Linked DNA regions of Homo sapiens: all the other regions are linked to region 1. The links come from fine-mapping of genetic effects on gene expression. A gene starts in region 1. Each other region holds a variant in brackets. All regions are shown on one strand. Distances are between the middles of the regions.

Evidence for each region. PIP is the estimated chance that this variant, and not a neighbour inherited with it, causes the effect. A credible set is the group of variants that fine-mapping cannot tell apart.
Region 2: its variant is the best candidate, but not a certain one, in a credible set for the expression of SYPL1 in left ventricle (GTEx, PIP 0.85).
Region 3: its variant is the best candidate, but not a certain one, in a credible set for the expression of SYPL1 in whole blood (TOPMed, PIP 0.56).
Region 4: its variant is the best candidate, but not a certain one, in a credible set for the expression of SYPL1 in whole blood (INTERVAL, PIP 0.65).

Annotation. Positions count from the first base shown.
Region 1 is chr7:106,109,984-106,114,572 of GRCh38, forward strand. It overlaps SYPL1 (synaptophysin like 1), which reads right to left and starts at 2,329. Exons shown (of 5, transcript NM_182715.4): 1 at 2,157-2,329. The coding sequence starts at 2,225. RefSeq lists an enhancer at 1,559-2,391 and silencers at 1,847-2,096, 2,107-2,596, 2,677-2,736.
Region 2 is chr7:106,133,757-106,138,345 of GRCh38, forward strand. No RefSeq gene overlaps it. Among named protein-coding and RNA genes, the nearest start is that of SYPL1, 24 kb to the left of the region's middle. The variant G/A (reference allele first, on the strand shown) is at 2,668.
Region 3 is chr7:106,047,174-106,051,762 of GRCh38, forward strand. No RefSeq gene overlaps it. Among named protein-coding and RNA genes, the nearest start is that of SYPL1, 63 kb to the right of the region's middle. The variant AG/A (reference allele first, on the strand shown) is at 2,866.
Region 4 is chr7:106,072,970-106,077,558 of GRCh38, forward strand. No RefSeq gene overlaps it. Among named protein-coding and RNA genes, the nearest start is that of SYPL1, 37 kb to the right of the region's middle. The variant T/C (reference allele first, on the strand shown) is at 2,520.

The sequences.
Region 1 (4,589 bases):
ATTATGAGTGCCTAAAATTAGTCGTATCATTGACTTGTTTAAAGCCTTTAAGTTCCCATCCCCTATGGCAGGGATTCTGGGCTTGAATGGAATAAACACTCCAATATTCCATACCCTGCACATATGCATTTTCCTAAGGAAAGGGCCCAGATTCCCAAAGATTAACCCCAGAAGCAGCCGACCTCTGAAATCTTTTCAGAACAATCTCAAACCGTACCCTCCAACCTAGCATATATTCCAACTAACCCCCAATTACTTTTAAGTTCTCATACAGGGTTATGCTGCTTCAACATTTCCTTCCACTGAACATAAGATTCCTTCTGCCTAGAAAGCCACTCCCCAAGTGAACCAGTACCCATCCTTCAAGTGTTCTCTCAGCTATGAAGTCCTCCCTAGTTCCTCCAAGCAAATGCTCTCTCCCTCATTTCTTCTACTATTCTTTGCATACACCTTTATCACAGTTTATTACATGGCATTTTTGTATTTTGTATGTCCTTCATCCTTAATAGATCATGAGAAAAAGACCATGTTTTATTCATGTGGTATGCTAGTGTTTAGTACAGATCTGGTATAAAATAGTCAAATATTTACCACACCATTAACAATGTGTAGTCTTTTCATAAAAGGCTCTCCTGTGTAATAACAAGCTGTTCAAACTGAAAGTATTTCTGTAAGATGCTTAAAAAGGGATATTTTTCAAAATACATCAAAACACGAATGAACTTATCACTAGTGCTTGAAATATTAAGGAAAAAGCTAAGTCTACAGTTGTTTAAAAACTTGACAAAAAATATAAGCACAGATATAAACAACTGCCTCTTCATTTAAGTGGAAATCTAAATTATTAGTTATACATTTAATTATAATCCTCAATGAGACTAAATCTAGATATAAGACTTTCTTAACGTTCATATTTGATTAGCCTCGTTAATGAGATTTTCCTCTTGCAATTTTTAAATGCTTTAATCATGGTTTTCTTTATACTTAAATCTGGACTTAGGTTTAAAAAAATCAAGTATATTTATTTATGCGTCTTTCAAGTAGTCATTTGTGTGAAGTCAGCACTACTTCAGTTTTCAGAAAACACACAAAATGTTCAGTGAATGGTGAAATTGCCTAACCCCTTGCGCGGTTACAATGGTCCAAGTAGGAAATCACATTAGGTACCCATCAGAGAAACTGAGTTTCTACGCTGCTTTTAAAAACATCCTCGGTAGGTTATTTAGAACAGGAAATTGAAAGTTCTTATTCTTCTTCACCACTCTATCACTAAGGAAAAGGGCGAAAAAGCTATGGATGTAAATGCTGCTGTCTATAAACACAACTTGCCTGCAGAAATATGTAGTGGGCCGCGAAGTTTGAAGGAAGCCCGCAGTGCCTGGTATATTCACCAACTCCTCCAAGTAACTGATCATTGCCAAGGTCGAATTAATAAGCGTTCTTTGATGTTAATGATTGTGAGTGTTCTCAGGAAAGGACTAAAAGCTGACTTTCTAAACAGGATGTTGTTTGGAAATACCCCAAACAAACTCGATGTCCATTCCTAACGTGTTATTAAGTGAACCGATCTGACTCGATGCGTTTTGTTAAAAGGACTTTCTTTAGTTTCCCTGGCCCACAGTTTATTTTTTTACTATTTTTAACTCGGAGCCCATCTTAAAAACAAATTAAGAACGGAATGCTCGCCAAATCACGTCTACAAGACAAAATCGGCTTCCCAGGGAGCTAGACCTCGAGTGGGCACCGGCAGGGACGTAACCGCTGAGCCTCTCCGCAGAGCGCGACGCCGGCCGCCGGGTTTCGGTTAGACCGCAGCAGGAAGTTTTCCCTTCCTCTGCGGGAGGCAGTGGAGCCAAGGGGAAATTTGAACTCCCACTCCACGGGGACACCCAGAGGGGAGCTCCGGTGTGGGAGGGTGGCTCCCCTGGGAGCCAGGCGGCCGAGGAGCTCGTGATTCGACGCCCGCCGCGGCGTCTCCGCCCCGCGCGGCCCAGGCCGCGGCCTCCCTGCCCTCCCTGCCGTCCACTCCCAGTCCCGGGGCGGCGGCCTCAAAGCCCGCGCGGCAGGGCTGCGTCCCGGCTCGCAGGTCCCCGTCTCCCCGCCTAGGGCGCCGCGCCGAGCGGCAGGCGGGCCTGGCCGGCGCGGGCTGCACTCACCCACTCGAGGACCTTGATGAAGCCGAGTGGCTCCTTGAGCGGGTTGAGGTTGATCTGGAAGCCGGACATCCTCTGAGGAAAGGAGGGAGAGAGAGTCAGGACGACGGGGCGGAGGAGGGGACCGACGAGACCAGAGCAGCCCGGTGGCGAGGAAGGGCAGGCGGGGCTGGCGCGCTGGCCGGGCTCGGAGGCGGGCCCGGGCGGCCGTGGGGCGGGGCGGGGCGGAGCGGCGGCGGTTGAGCTGCTGGCTGAGACTCTGGGGCGGAAACGGAGTGGGGCGGCTGGGGAGGCGAGGGGCGGGCCGGGGCGGAGACCGGGAGGCTTCTCCTCAGGCCGCACCTGGCCGAGTCGACTGATCCGCTGGCGAACCAAGTAGATGTTGGGCGCCATACTGCGTGCGCCGCGCCCCCTTCCCTGCGGTTCAGCCCCTGGCACTCGGTCTTCCCCTGCGCACGCGTGTACGCGTGCGCTCGTTGGGCCCGCGCCGCGCTTCCGGACCCGCGCGACTGCGAAGAGCCCTGACCCGGGGGCGCCCACGCCCGCTCCTGCGCAGCTTGGGGGCGCTGGCCTCAGAGACACCCTCACTTGACCCCGAGCTCACCACAGCTGAGCTCACTACACCGAAGCTGACCTCTCCTTCCCTTAACAGATCTCAACTTTTTTATGAATTTATAATGTATTGGCACAGATGAAGTTGTGTTTCAAGGCATGTGTTAGGGGCCTTTGATTAAAATTGCAAAACAACAGACTTCTGGCTACCGTGCTGTGGGGTGCCTCGAAAGTGTGAATCACCAAATATTCGTATGGAAATTAGGTTTATTTTCAAAGTTACCATCGCAGCCATGGTTGAAAAATGAAGTAAGTTTATACCTAAAAGGAAAGGCGTGGCCGGACAGGCCCTCGGTGACCTACACTTTCACCTCTTCTACGCTGTCGGTCGACAGTCCTCTTTTTAAGGCATCGTTGGTATCTTTCTTCAAGAAGCTGACCCCTTTAAGATTCGGCTTAGGTGATACTTTCCTCTTGGCACGCAGTTACGGGAGCCCCAAGGTAGTGTGATCTCCTTCCTGGCTTCTTCAGTACCTGGAAAGTTCCTGGACAGCTGGAATGTGGTCATATTCGTGTATATGAAAAACCAGCTTCCAAGGACTTACCTGAATTTCAAGCACGAATATGATTTGCAGGCTACTTGCCACTGAGGTTATTCCGTCAGGGTTGACAACTGTTATTGAACGTCCTTGTAGTAAGCGAACCCTTTCTCTTTCGAGACCTATCTCCTTGTTTGCTGTCCAGAGAGTGCAAAAAATACATTTCATTTTCTATGCAGACAGAGACAATCTTTATGTTTATCTTGGCTCCCGTTCCTCAGTCCCCAGCACAGTCAGTGCTCAATGAGCACCTAATGGCATATCTCATTTTGAAATAACATTAAGAACTGGGCGCGGTGGCTCACGCCTGTAATCCCAGCACTTTGGGAGGCCGAGGCCGGCGGATCGTGAGGTCAGGAGTTCAAGACCAACCTGGCTAACATGGTGAAACCCCGTCTCTTATAAAGATACCAAAAAAATTAGCCTGACGTGGTAGCACGCGCCTGTCATCCCAGCTACTCAGGAGGCTGAGGCAGGAGAATCGCTTGAACCGGGAGGTGGGGGGGTTGCAGCGGGTTCCTAATGGATGGTTGCAGATTTCTCCCACTAAGCAACAAAGCATCATAGATACCCCTTAGGGCTAGGTGAGTGGAAGGTGACCATACACTGCTACCTGGTGCGTCTGAGACCACGATGAGCGGTGCTCCAGGTCTTCCAGCTTCCTCTCTCTCCTTTTTTTTCTACTTTGTTTCTGTATCTTCCTCTCAGTACTTCTCTTTTTGTTCTCTTTAGCCCGTTTTTCTAAGCTTTTACTCTCATTCTGTTGCGGTCTTCTGGGTAGGCACCTGGGGACGGAGTAGTGAATAGTAAGACTATTTAGCTTGAGCTTCATATTCACGAATATTCAAATTAGACTCTTAATGTTATTATTATTATTTTTTTTTTTTGAGACAGAGTCTTGCCCCGTCACCCAGGCTGGAGTGCAATGGCGTGATCTCAGCTCACTGCAACCTCTGCACCCCCGGGTTCAAGCGATTCTCCTGCCTCAGCCTCCCGAGTAGCTGGGATTACAGGCACGTACCACCACGTCCGGCTAATTTTTTTGTATCTTTATTAGAGACGGGGTTTCACCATGTTGGCCAGGTTGGTCTTGAACTCCTGACCTCATGATCCGCCACCTCGGCCTCCCAAAGTGCTGGGATTACAGGCGTGAGCCACCGCGCCCAGCTCTTAATGTTATTTCAAAATGAGATATGCCTTGACAGATTAGAGATATGTTCACATGCAGCTTTATTAATTAAAGATCTAAAACATACCATGACTTAGTAAACCAATATTGGCATCT
Region 2 (4,589 bases), 24 kb after region 1:
GCCATGTGAGCAGGAGCTTGGGAGTCAGACCTACGTTTGAATCTCCGTGTGAACTTGGATCGATTTCTTAACTTCCCTGGAGGCTCATCTAGAATGTGGGAGTAGTGATAACCACCTCCAAGTGTTTCTCATATTAGAAAGGGATAATGTACATAATGCAACCAGCAGAATCTTTGGCATCTAATAAGTGCTCAAAACATGTAACTCCCCTTCGTCCTACCCCTGCCATGAAGCACAACTGAGACAGTATTGGGGGTTGAGGGTGGGCAGACCTGGCTTAATTCCCCTTCTCTCCTTGTCCCACCTGGCCCATTTCCTGGCCTTGGGCAGCCCAAGGGCACTGGGCCCTGTGTTACAGGATGAAGGGGAGAAAGACGCTTTGCACCCCCTTCCTAAGGTCGTCAGTCCTGAGGCTGCACCTTCCCTCTGTGCCCTTGATTTGAAAAGATACTGGGTTTAAAGAGGGATCGCAAACAAAGATGGGTGCTCCAAGCAGGCATATAAGCTGCTGTCCCCTTGAAATAATATTCGTCAATTTTTTGTCTAATATTTACTTTGGCTAGGGGCAAAGCTGGTCCAGCAGGACAAAGGCATCTTTCCCCAATATGTCAGGGGTTGGGCATGGAGACCCAAGGCCACTGATGGCAGATTTCCAATTTATTTAAGGGATGTGTCTGCTGTCTTCTGGCATGCTACCATGCCACCTGTTCACCTGGTTGTTTCTCATGTGTCTAGAGCCCCACAAAGGGTGACTAGGTCAGCCAGAGCTCTTGCTAGGCTTCCCTTTAATTCAGGATTACTTTTACTCTTTGGTCACATAAGAATATTCATTTCCTGATTTGCCTGTCTTATACGTTTAAGTGCTCGTGTATTTCATAACACCACTATAGGATCTTGCATTTGAATACTTACCAGGGACTAAAATAAATTCACACTGCTATTTTGCTGATGAAGTGTCCTATTGTGTAAGTGAAGTTTTTAATTTTGTAGGTTTAGATGAGTAAGTTAAAATTTTCCTTTCTGGTTCTTAATTTGTTTTCTAATTTGGGGTAAAATGAAGTTAGGTGGGGGCAGGGGAGAAATTTTCAAAAGGAGCTCTTCATATCAGTAATGCATATTTTATACATGCCCCAACTCCAAGACGCTTCTCCTCAGAGCCGTTTCAAGGGCAGAGAAGATTCCTGATCGCTAGATTGCCCCTGTTCCCTTTGAGTTAATCCTATGGCCTCCACAAGCATGTAGAAAATTCTGGAGGAGTGGTACTCCTTATGCTTTCACGAATTTTATTTGGCCTCCCCATTCTGGCTCACTTCTTGTGAATGCAGATTCAGTTGGCCCCAATTTCTTTCTAATGGGCAGGAATCAAAGGCGTAGAATGTTGTTGAAAGGTTTTGTACTATTGTGCAAAGTAGTACTGTACAAATTATCTTCTGCCTCTTTCTCATAAGACCTTTTGAGCAAAGCCCAATTCTAGAATTCTGGAATTCTACTGCTAGAACTTTCCTTTGGCTAAATTTTGATTGTTACTAAAAAATCAGTATGCCGGAGGACCACATTTTATTTATTTTTTTGAGACAGGTTCTCACTCCTGTTGCCCAGACTGGAGTGCAGTGGCACGATCACTGCTTACTGTAGCCTCAACCTCCTGGGCTCAGGTGATTCTCCCACCTCAGCCTCCTGAGTAGCTGGGTCTACAGGTGTGCACCACCACGCCCAGCTAATTTTTTGTATTTTTAGTAGAGACGGGGTTTTGCCATTTTGCCCAGGCTGGTCTTGAACTCCTGGAGTCAAGCAATCCACCTGCCTCTGCCTCCCAAAGTGCTGGGATTACAGGCGTGAGCCACCGCAGCTGGCCAGGACTGCATTTTAATTGTCCTAAGTCATTTGTGTCTTAATTTGAATGGCAGACAGCTTGTGTCAGTGGCTGCTGTGAGGACAGCCCTGGAATGGAGGTGAGGAGAGCCTGGAGTTAGGTAGCTCAGGACTTAGGGAGAACTTCAACTTTGGTAGGAGCCATCCCGGACCTGCCTACAGCTAGTAACATTTTGAACCTGAAAGCCTCCTCCTCCTTGCAGGTGTAAGCTGTTCCTTAGCCTTTAACTTTCAAATTAGAAATGTTTATTTAGAGTAGCAATGGAAAATAGAAGATAAGTTAGCAAAGCCAGCAGAAGTTGGAGAACTCATAAACAATAAAATATCAGAAAAGTGTTACCCAAAATGCAACATTGAAAAAAGGTAACATTAAAAAAAATCTCGAGAGCCAAGAATAAAGGTGCCTCAAGGGAAGTAACACATACCGTGATTTTTCTTGCACTCTCTTTTTCTTTAGCCCTGTGATACTGGTCTATCTTTTATGAAGGTCCTCTTTTATGAAATTCAATAATGGTAACTAATGTTAGGGTGCCTCCTGAGGCAACATGAGATTATATGGTAGGTAAACAGTAGGCCGTTGCTGACTCAAAGGAAAGGATCACTTAGGAACACCATTAGCCCAGTGCCAGTGGTCCCTTTTAGTCAGAATCCTCAATCTCTGTGGGGATCACCCTTTGGCCTGGACTTTATTAGCTGCCAGATTAAAGGCACGAGAATTGAGCCTCATTTTTTCCCATTTCTATTCTTAGATAATCCATTCATTCTTTTTCAATTTACCAGGACCAGTCCCAGAAA[G/A]TGTTGAGAACTGAGTGTGAGCAATAATCACTGATATTATATAGTTCCTTGTAGTTTGCAAAGCAGCTTTACATACATTATTGCATTTAGTCCTCCCAATAAGCCTGCAAAACAGGCATTATATTATTATTATCATCACAGTTTCACAACTGCAGAAACAAAGCTTAAAGAGATGACAGGACTTGCCTAAGTTCACGGAGAGAGGGAATGGCTCTCAGCTCAGGTGTTTTGATCCTAAGTCCTGTTGCTCCTCAGTTCACATTGAATCTGAGGAGCTGCCATTTGTCCACCATGCTCCTCTCACTCTTATTAACAACAACAATGGTAATAGTGGCCAATGTTTGAGGGGTATTCACATGATGCCAATTACATCCCATTTAATCCTCACACCAATTGTATGATACAGGCTTAATAACTGATCTTATTTTACAGTTGAGTAAACTGAGGCTCAGAGAGGGTAGGTAAGTCTCAGAGAGGTGGGGTATGTCGACCAAGGGTCATAGCTAGGAGGTGGTGAGATAACATTTAAATCTAGACCTGTTTGGTGTCCGTGCTCTTAAACACGCGACTCTATGACCTTGCTGTCTCTTTGGTTTCTCTTCCAAGGTTTCTGGCTTAGTCTAAATGTTTGATTCAACACAGCAGAAGCACACAGGCCGCTTTCAAGGGCAAAGAATCAAACTACAGGCTGTGGGGAGGACATAGAGAATGAACAATGGGTTCTCCAGGACTTGTAAGAGTGGGAAGCACCACTGACCTGCAGATGAGGATTGACGGAACAAAACAAACAGTAATGATGGGGTGCAGACATGCTACCCCAAAATATGGTACCTCGGCATATTGAACAGTGTAAGCTGAAGGAATTGGAAAAAAAACACATAAGCAGGAAGGTCTCTGTGACCTTTGTCCAGGCTTCTTTCCTGAGGCAGTTCCTAAAACCTGGAAGGCCTCTCTGACTTTCCGTTGCAGCAGGTCTTCAGGTGCTCATGTGAGAAGTGCCCTCCCCACATCTGGAGGAAAAGAGCATCCTTACCTCTGAGGACATAGGACACAGAGAAAAATCTGAACAAACAGGCCTGCCTAAGTTCCCCCGGCTTATTACCATTACATCATACTCTTTTCCCTCTCATATTTCTCCATGACTGTCCACTCTTCATGAAACCTACTATAAAAAACAGGTTTCACTGTTTCTTCAGGTCTTCATTTCCTTATGAAGGCTCCCGTACCCATAAAACTTACATTTAAATAAATTTATATATTTTTTTCTCTTGTTCATCTATCTTTTATTAGAGGGGCCTCAGCCATGAGCCTAGGATGGGTGAGGAAAATATATTTTTAGTCACTACGATAACAGATGCATTAGTCAGAAGGGACATGGAGCCTACTGGGGGACTGGGAAAAAAGCTGGATGGATTCACCCACATTCAGGCATCGGGGACTTCATACAGATCCTCTGGCCTGAATCATTTGCATTTCATTGCAGGATGGCAGCGCTTAACACCAAGGCATCCCTTACTAACTAACAATGACCTATCATAAGGCACGTGGAGGGCTCAGGGTCGCCAACTGGGTACGGGAAGCTCCTGGAAACACCCTATGAAGGCAGCAGCCTGCTCCAGACAGGGAACACAGACTGAGAGTATCAGGACTCTCTCGTTGGCTACAAATGCTTCTGCAGTAAGTAAATCCTAAAAGATAAAACTTCTTTGATGGAAAGGCCGTAATACACTTAAATGTTACTTAACCCAGCAATCCCATTACTGAGTATATACTCAAAGGAATAGAAATCATTCTATTACAAACATACATGCATGTTTATGTTCATTGTAGCACTATTCACAATAGCAAAGACATGGAATCAACCCAAATGCTCATCAATGATAGACTGGATAAAGAAAATGTGGCACATATACACCATGGAA
Region 3 (4,589 bases), 63 kb before region 1:
TGTGGATCCACATGCTGGCTCTGTCTTGTTCTTCTGAGTTTATCCTGTGGTTTGCACCAGTGTTCTACGGCAACTCCAGAACCCTCAGCTTCAAGCCAAAGTGTTTTCCAAATAACCAGAAGAGTCCACCTGGGAGGCCTGGCTCAGGCCAGCCCCACGTACGAGGGTTGGCAGCTCTGACATTAATTAACCGTGTGGCCTTTTAGTGAACTGAAAGACACTGGAACACTGCTTTTCTTAATAAAATAAAATCTTTAACCACCAGGGTTGACAGTAGGAGGAAATCTGATAGGGGTGGGGCTGTACTAGAAGTCTCCCTTGCCTGGTTTGAATGTTCTGGCCTTGTCCCTGGTTGGGACAGCGTATTAAGCTGGGGCAGCTACATCTTCCCCTGGGCTGACTTCTGCCAAAGCCTAGAACGTTGTCACTAAAGTTTAATTCCTTTTTGTATTTAAAGGCTCCTGGAGTCCTAGAGATGCAACTCTGCAAACCTTAGCAGTTTGTTTCTCCTAAGTTGTAGGGTCTTTGCTTAGGGTTGATTTATTTAATCCATCAGGTTCTGGTGATTTATTTGATTTTCTGTGCCAAATGAGTGTCTCGAGACAAAAAAGTGGTCTCTAGACTAAGTGAACAACACCAAGGTGACCTGTTCCCACTTTGGAGAAGACACAGCTTAATGGTTAAGAGTGTAGACTTTGATACTTGATGCCCTCGGGCTCAAATTTTGGCTCTGCAATTACGAACAGCGTGACCTTGAGTAAATTATTGAATAGGTTGGAGCTGTGTTTCCTACTGTGTAAAATGGGGTTGATGATGCCATAAGTCTGCCCCATAGCGGCATGTGTACATTAAGTGAGATCACGTGCACAGTAAGCACTCAGGAAAGACTCACTGTTTTTTCCAGCTAGGTGGAATTTCTCTGGGGAGCTATCAGATTTTTTTCCTAGAGACCTGCTGGGTGGCCCACACTTTGGAGCCCTTCCAGGTGGGGGTAGCAGAAACATCATAGGGGGGCATCATGGGTTTTCCCTCCCAGCTCTATTCCTTCTGCCTCTCGGTGCTTCAGGCCAACTGTTACTAGTTGCAGAGAGACGGCCAAGGCAACAGCAGGCTTGGAAGGTGCAAGCCTGGACTGGTCGTTCACTGAGTGGAAGGTGTTTGGAATGCAGAGGGGCATGAATGAGCCACCACTCTTTAGTTGGGGTTTTCATTAAGGACATGTTGCTGTTTGATGCCACTGGGCACAGGACTTTCAGAGCAGGGGATGGGCATAGGGGAGGAGTCCCCACTTCTGGCCATTCACCCTGGTCTTTGAACATAACCTGGCTCTGAGAAAGTGGCTCGACAGTACAGGCCCCCAAGCCCAGGATTTGGGAGACCTAATCTGGGCTCAGCCAGGCTTCTGTTAAGTCATTGATCTAAGGAGCTGGCAAATCCCTTAGGAGAGTATCTGGAATTGATGGCCCAGGCAAATCCAGGCTCTGCCTCTCAGTTTTGCATATACCTTATCGAATTTAATCCTTGTAACTATTCTGAGTTGCACAGTTTAGAGAGGAGGAAAGTCCCCATGGAGTTTTAAATCTGGAAGAACTTTGAGGTCTTCTGCTTTACCCTCTTGTTATGCAGATGAAAAAAGGAAAGCCCAGCAAGGGTGAGGTCACTCAGCTAATTAGGAGCAGAGCTAGAGCCAGATCTGGAACCTTGTTCTTTTAGCCGTGCACACTGTAGCTAATGCAGGCGGACCCTGTGCTCTCTTGAAAGGCAACTGCACTGCAGGCCCCATGTGTAGATTTAGGCTGCTTTGTGCCTCAACCCACATCCCCATCACCAGTGCAGCTTCAGGAATGGTCCTTGGTGGGGCAGAGGGGATAAAACCAGCCTGACTGACAGCTCCAGCTTTCAGCTACCCGAAGGAGTCTCTTCGAGTCCTTGCCAAGACCCAAACTGGGAATCTCAGACTTCGGACAAGAATTCTCCAACTGTGGGGATGAGTGCACCTAGGCTAAGCCAAGCACTCCTTGGCCTGTCTTGCGTTACCCAGAATTCCTGAAAGTGCTGGGACTTGGCTAGGTGGAATTTGAAAGTCTGACCTCTGGTTCTAACCTGTTAAAATAGTTGAGCACAGACTGTTTTCCCAGCACTGGGCTGCCTGTGTACCACCTGAAGTCGGGGGTAGAGGCCTTTGCACAGTGTCTGGCAGGTGCTCCATAGGAAGGGAGGGGAAACTCGAAGCAGGGGCAGGTCCCAAGGAAGACGGGGTGGCATTTTCACAAGAAAATCCCCCAGAAAGGGCGGCCGCCCCATGCTCTCCCCCATGGCATTGTGCCAGGCTGGCTATGCTGTGGCTTCCCTTTGGGTTCCCCTGGGTGGAAGGGTGCTCACTGAGGTGCCTTTTGGGTGACGTTGCCCATGCAAACACATTTCCCCAGAAACACATCTGCTCAACTGCACTAAAAATGGCATCTTGATTGACTTATTTAGCGTCCATTAAGTTCATACTCAAATTAACATGCAGAATGGGAGACAGGAGGGGTTACAACACCCGTAAGGGGTTAGAGAGGCATTTAAAATGGATGAAGATCTGTGTACCAGATGTTTGTTTCACCTAAATAAAACAAAATAATAAAACAGAACAAAACACTGCACCAAAAACGTTCTTTCTGGGAGCAGGGAGAGAAAGTTCCATGTCTCTCATCCCTTTTTCGGGCTTCACCCCAAGGTCACAGGTCCCTGCTGGTGTAGTGGTGGCCTGTAGATAGGCAGGGAGCCCCATTTCATTGTTGGAGTTACACAGGAGTGACTGTGGCAATCAGCACACAACAGACTCTTCAAAATCGTGAACAACTGGGGGGACCTTGCACATGG[AG/A]GGCCCACTGTTGAAAGAGCTGTGCTGCGGCTGGCCTCAATGCTGGGGAGCATGTGGCTCTCCTTGGGTCAGCAGAGCAAAGGTAGGGGCATCCAAGAGGGACCCTGGGAGCTCCTTGCATTGCTTGGACCATGAGCCAGCTGGGGCCTGGCTGCTTCCCAGCAAGAGGGCGCCCACGTTCCCTTTTCTGTGGGGCTGGAGGATTCCTCTTCACCCTCCCCATCCCTCTTCCATGCAGGAAGCATTGCAACATCTAGACAATGTCTGTATTAACTCCTCTGCCTGGAGCCAAGTAGCCTGTGTGGTCCTGCAGCAGAATACAGGCCCGTGCTGTCGGCCCAGCTCACCCCCACCCAGGAATGATTATGGAATGGGGGATGCACACTTGCTTCACCCTTCTTGCTCTCCTTTAGCTCCGTGAGTGCCCTACCCCCAAAGCATATTGCTTTACCGGTGCTGTGTGAGATTATAGAATTCTCAAACCTGGTTCATGACAGGGGGAAGCCCAGAATGGGCCTGCCTGGCAGGACACCGGGATGAGGTGTCTGGTTCCTCCCTGGGAGCTGCCCATGTGACGTGGATCAGAGGCCCTTCTGGAACCACCACCTCTAGGACAGTAAACTGTCGGTGACTGTAAGTAGCACCCGTAATGCCACCATCAGCCCCAGAGGCACAAAGCCGAGACAGAGCAGGAGTCTTGAAGGGGAGAACATTCATGGAGGAGGACTTCTGCGGGAAAAGGGGCTAGATCTGCCTTTGCCACTGCTCCCAAGACAGTCCTTCTCATTTTTCCCTGGTAATAGCTGCTCCCAGCCCAGCCCTCCCCCACATGGCACCTCAGCTCTCAGTCCGGCACTGCCTGCTTTACTGCTTTCCAAGTCCCATGGAAATGAATCATTCTGCTGGCTTGCTGGAGTGCACTTTCCTATCTTTCAGAAGCCAGTGGCCTTCGAGAATAACTGGCATTTCTCAGTCTGTGATAGAGATGTCCCTCTGTTCACGCCAAGGTGAGCTCTTCCAAGCATGTGCACGCAGCTCATGTGCCTGGGGAAATAAGCACTTTGCTACCTGGCAAAGCAGTGGGGAGGAGAATACTTTGCCTGGAAACCTGACCAGACCCTTAATGAATGTTATGTGTAAGCTTAGGCTGGGCAGTGTAGTTGGGAGAACAGGGAATGAGTTTCAGTTCCACAATTGTGCTCTGCTCCCTCACATCTCAGGGCCTTTTTACCTACAACCCTGCTGTCTAGGATTCAGCCATTCATTCCTTCAACACACGCTTGTTGAGTACCTCTTATACTGCAGGCTTACACTCTCATCTGCAAGGTGCTGAGTGAACAAGACACAGGCAATGGGGGTGCAGACAATGAAGGTGAGGTGTGGCTTGTCCCTTCTTCATCTTTTACTGGTGTCCTGTCTGTGGCGGTCACTATGAGGGCATCTGAACAGTGGTCTTGAGGCAGGAATTTTTACGCCTTAGCTCAGCGAGATCTGGGTTCTTGTCTCACGACCAGGAAAAATTAGGCACATGGACATCAAAGAGTGAGTGGAATAGAATTTATGAAGCAAAAAGGGAAGCTCTCAGCAAAAAGAGGGGTCCTGAAAGCAGGTTACTGGCTGGCCCCCTTCATAGTTGAATACAAGGGGCTTCTATAATCCACTGATGGGGCTGGTTTCCCTATTTGTATGTGGCGTGAATTCCTGGCACCCCCATCCTTCTAGT
Region 4 (4,589 bases), 37 kb before region 1:
GTAATCCCAGCACTTTGGGAAGCTGAGGTGGGTGGATCACCTGATGTTAGGAGTTTGAGACCAGCCTGGCTAACATGGTGAAACCCTGTCTCTACTGAAAATACAAAAATTAGCCAGGCGTGGTGGCTTGCGCCTGTAATCCCAGCTACTTAGGAGGCGGAGGCAGGAGAATTGCTTGAATCCAGGAGGCAGAGGTTGCAGTGAGCTAAGATCTTGCCATTGCACTCCAGCCTAGGCAACAAGACTGAAACTTCCTCTCAAAACAAACAAACAAACAAACAAACAAATAATGAAGTTATAAATTTGGACTTACATTCTGGGTTAGGGACTTGACATCAAGCACATCAGATATGATTTGATAATTTCTGTCAGGAATGCAATAATAAAATAGCTCTAAACTCCGTGGTCATTATAAATAGTAAACTCATGCTCCAAGCACTATAAAATGGGCATGGGCGCACTGTCTGCATCCCACTGGTTTCCTGTTACCCCACCTGCTGCCTCTTGCTTGACCATGGGCTGTTGATGGAAACTGAGGACTAAACTTATAAGGCCCACCAAGCTTATCTTGCCTTGCTTGCTTTTAGCCGCTTGCTTCTAGCTGATTTTAAAATCCATATAGCTAAATAATATATATCTGCCAGTAGCTTCCTTATAGTTAACAACTCTAAGGCATTGCTCACCATGGTAACAGTTGTTTTTCAGGAAGTGGGGGTCAGTCCTTGTCCACTTCAAACCAGCTGAGACCACCAGCCCTTCAACTGGACCTGTGTGAATGTCCAGTTGATATGGACAGGAGACAGGGAAATACTGGGTAGAAGAGGGTGGTTCCCTGGCAAAGGCCCCACCCTAAAGCCTGGAAACCTGCAGCCTGGAATGAGAACAAGCATTCCTGTTTTCATGCCCAAATGTTGCCTTTTGGTCTGGAACGCCCCCTATCCTGTAGTCATATAAACCCTAAGCCCCAGGCTCTACAAGCAGATGAGCAGACAAACAGAAGAGCAGAAGAGCTGCAGAACGGCGTGGCAGAGAAGGAGAGTAAAGAAGGAGCATCTGAACATCAAGAGGAGTTTGGCTGGGGCAGTCAGGGAGGAGAGATAGGCCATTGGACAGCCAAACTCCAGGGAAAGGTCATTTTCCCACTCCATCCGCTTTCCGGCTCCCTGCTGACAGCCACCTCCACCACTCAATAAAACCCCCACATTCACCATCCTTCAAGTCTGTGTGTGATCTGATTCTCCCTGGACACTGGACAAGAATCCAGGTACCAAGACGGCACTGAGCTGTTTAACATTTAAGCCATCTGCGGATGGCAGAGCTAAAAGAGGACTGTAGCTCATCCACTGGGGCTTCAGGAGTTGCAGGCTCCTACCCCTAGACACCACTGGTGGGCCGGTGCCCAAAAGCGCTCACCCTGATTCCTGCACCTGCCTGCGTGCTCCCTCTCCCGTAAAGGGTTTGAGCACACACAGTGGCTGAACAGACGAGCCACACCCTTGTTGCATGTCCTGCAAGGAGGTTCAGGGAAACCTCCCGTTTCACAGTGGGTGACCTTTTGATGTTGGAGGGCCAAAAACTCCACCCTCAGATCACGCTAATGATCTCATTTTGTTAACGTGCATCCTGTTAAGAGCCATGAAGCTTGACTACACTTGTGCAGGTCACTCATTGCCTTGTTTTCCCTTACTCCAGTCACCTTTCCCCATGCCTCGGACCGCCTTGCTACTCTACCCCATAAATATCCATAAAGCCTCTTCTACGGGGAGGCAGACCTGAGAGGCATTCTCTAGCTGCTCACTTAGCTGCCTCAAGAATAAAATCTTTTCTCCACTGCCAAACTCATCATCTCAGTGATTGGTTTACTGTGTAATGGGCAGAATGTGCCTGGCCACTAACATGCTCACATCTACTTTCTCAATACACTAACTCTGAGGTAAGGAAGGCATATCTTAGTTCCCGAGTTCAACAGATGGGGAAACTGAAGTTCAGGAATACTTCAGCTTTGGAAGCACGGCAGAGACTTAGCAAACAGGTTTTCTTTCAGTGCTTAAGTCCTCACTTTCCAATCTCTGTAGCCCTGCTCGTGACACAGTGGACATTGTGCATTTGCTTGTCTCACATCTAAGGGAACACTGATTTACTTATTTATTTTGAGACAGGATCTCAGTCTGTCACCCAGGCTGGAGTGCAGTGGCACAATCATGGCTTGCTGCAGCATCAACCTCCTGGACTCAAGTGATCCTCCTGCCTCAGTCTCCCGAGTAGCTGGGACTATAGGTACATGCCACTATACCTGGCTAATTTTTTTTTTTTTTTTTTTTTTTGAGACGGAGTCTCACTCTGTCGCCCAGGCTGGAGTGCAGTGGCACCACGTTGGCTCACTGCAACCTCCGTCTCCTGGGTTCAAGCAATTCTCCGGCCTCAGCCTCCTGAGTAGCTGGGATTGCAGGTGCCCACCACCACACCTGGCTAATTTTTATATTTTTAGTAGAGATGGGGTTTCACCATGTTGGCCAGGT[T/C]GGTCTTGAACTCCTGACCTCAGGTGAGCCGCCCACCTCGGCCTCCAAAGTGCTAGGATTACAGGCGTTAGCCACCACGCCCGGACTACCTGCTTAATTTTTTGATTTTTTTTTTGTAAAGACAGTGTCTTACTTTGTTGCCCAGGCTCAAGTAATGCCCACTCCTTGGCCTCCAGAAGTGATGGGATTATAGGCGTGAGCCACCGTACCCGGCCTGGGATGCTACTCTAAATGCACATTCATTCTAGCTCCCAAACTACTTTTTTTTCGCTATTTCTAAATCAAAATGCTTTTCGACATTGCTATGTGGAAACTGTGGGTTTTATAAAGTTATAAAGAATAGTTTAATAAGAAATTACACCCAAGAAAAGTATAAAACACATTACAATATAAATGTGACCTGGCACTTAGAATAAACATTTGCTTTGCAATACTCTCATTTGTTTTTTTCCTAGAATTTAAATGAGACTTTTTTGGAACCAGATTTTTAAAATAAACAAATGAACAACTGTCCCTAAGAAACCTTAGCTGACACCTTTTTTGTTTCTGTCTTAAAGTTCCCAGCCAAGGTTTTCAAAATCTTTCCCCTGACCTCAGAACTGCTGGAAGTGGTGCAGTGCTGACTGACAGTTTGTTGACAAGAGAGGCAACACTTCACACTTCACTGGAAAGCATAAAAGCGTGCTCCAGGTCATTAACTGAGACTTTTAAGAGGAACTGCTTGCTGCATTATGATAGTGGGATTCAGGAACATTTCTTTGCAATTCGTACAGTTTTGTTGTTTTTTCACAAAATGGAATTCAAATGCACAGAATGCAATTAATAAAAATTCTTGATTCATGGCACACTATCATCATTGGCCCGTGAATGGCCTTATTTTACTTTATATCACATTTAGTAATGAACACCTGGTAAAACCAAGGCCCAACCAAGAACTAGAATATCACCACCATTTTACCTTGACCTAAGGGAAAGGGAAGGGCACCCACTCTATCTCTGCCCTCTGGCTCTCTCACATAGGTTACTCTTCTAAATCTGTTGTTTGTCATTCCTTTGCTTTTTAAAGATGAGTTTTACCAAATATGCTTGAACATCTAAATCATATGTAATTGGGTCTTCTCAGGTGATAAAAGTAGTATCACCCTGTATATAGTCTTCTCTAGCCTGTTCTTTTCACTCAACAGTGTTTCTGAGACATTCATGTGGTTGGTAAAGCTGTAGTTCCTTAATTTTCACCTCTGTGTTATAGTCCCTTGTGCGACTCTACTAAAATTTATATTTTTTCCTGCCAGTAGATATCCGAGTTGTTTCTATTTCTTTCTGTAAGACAAACTTTTTTGCTTAGAACAATCTTCTGTTTCATATTAGGTGCTAATGTTTCTCTTGGGTATATAACTAGATGAGGAGTTACTGGGTCTTCAGGCATGAACAACCTTATAAGGTAATGACAAATTATTTTCCAAAGTGGTTATATTAATTTACATTTCTACCAGGAATGTGATCACATTGATTCACATTCCCTTCAAACTCAATATTGTCACACAAAATTTTTATCAATAGGTGTAAAATGGTATCTCTGTGGTTTTGACTTCCATTTCCCTGATAATGAGGTTCAACAGTGCTTCATGATTTTTAGCTGTATGTATTTTTTCTTCTGTGAAATGTCTGTTTGAATCTTTTGCAGTTTTGCTAGCTTTTCCCTCTTTTTGTTTGTAGGAACCCTTATCTATTCTGCATGCTAATCCTTTGTGCTATAATAACTTCAGTTGGAATTTTTCTTCTATTTCTTTAAAATATTTTTTGATGACATGTTTTGGTGACTAATTTTAACATATCTGAATTTGTGAATATTGTTTCTTACGGTGAGCATATTTTTGTGTGTTATTTAGGAAATCCCTCCCTGTTCTAAGATGAGAACAATATTAGCTTATTTTTCTCTAAAAGTGAAAGTGTGCTTTTAACACGTAAACTCTTAATCCTTCTAGGTTTGATTTTTGTATATGGTGTGAAGTAAGATCTGATTTCATTTTTCCACATGGATAACCAATTTTTCAGCTCCATTTATTATTC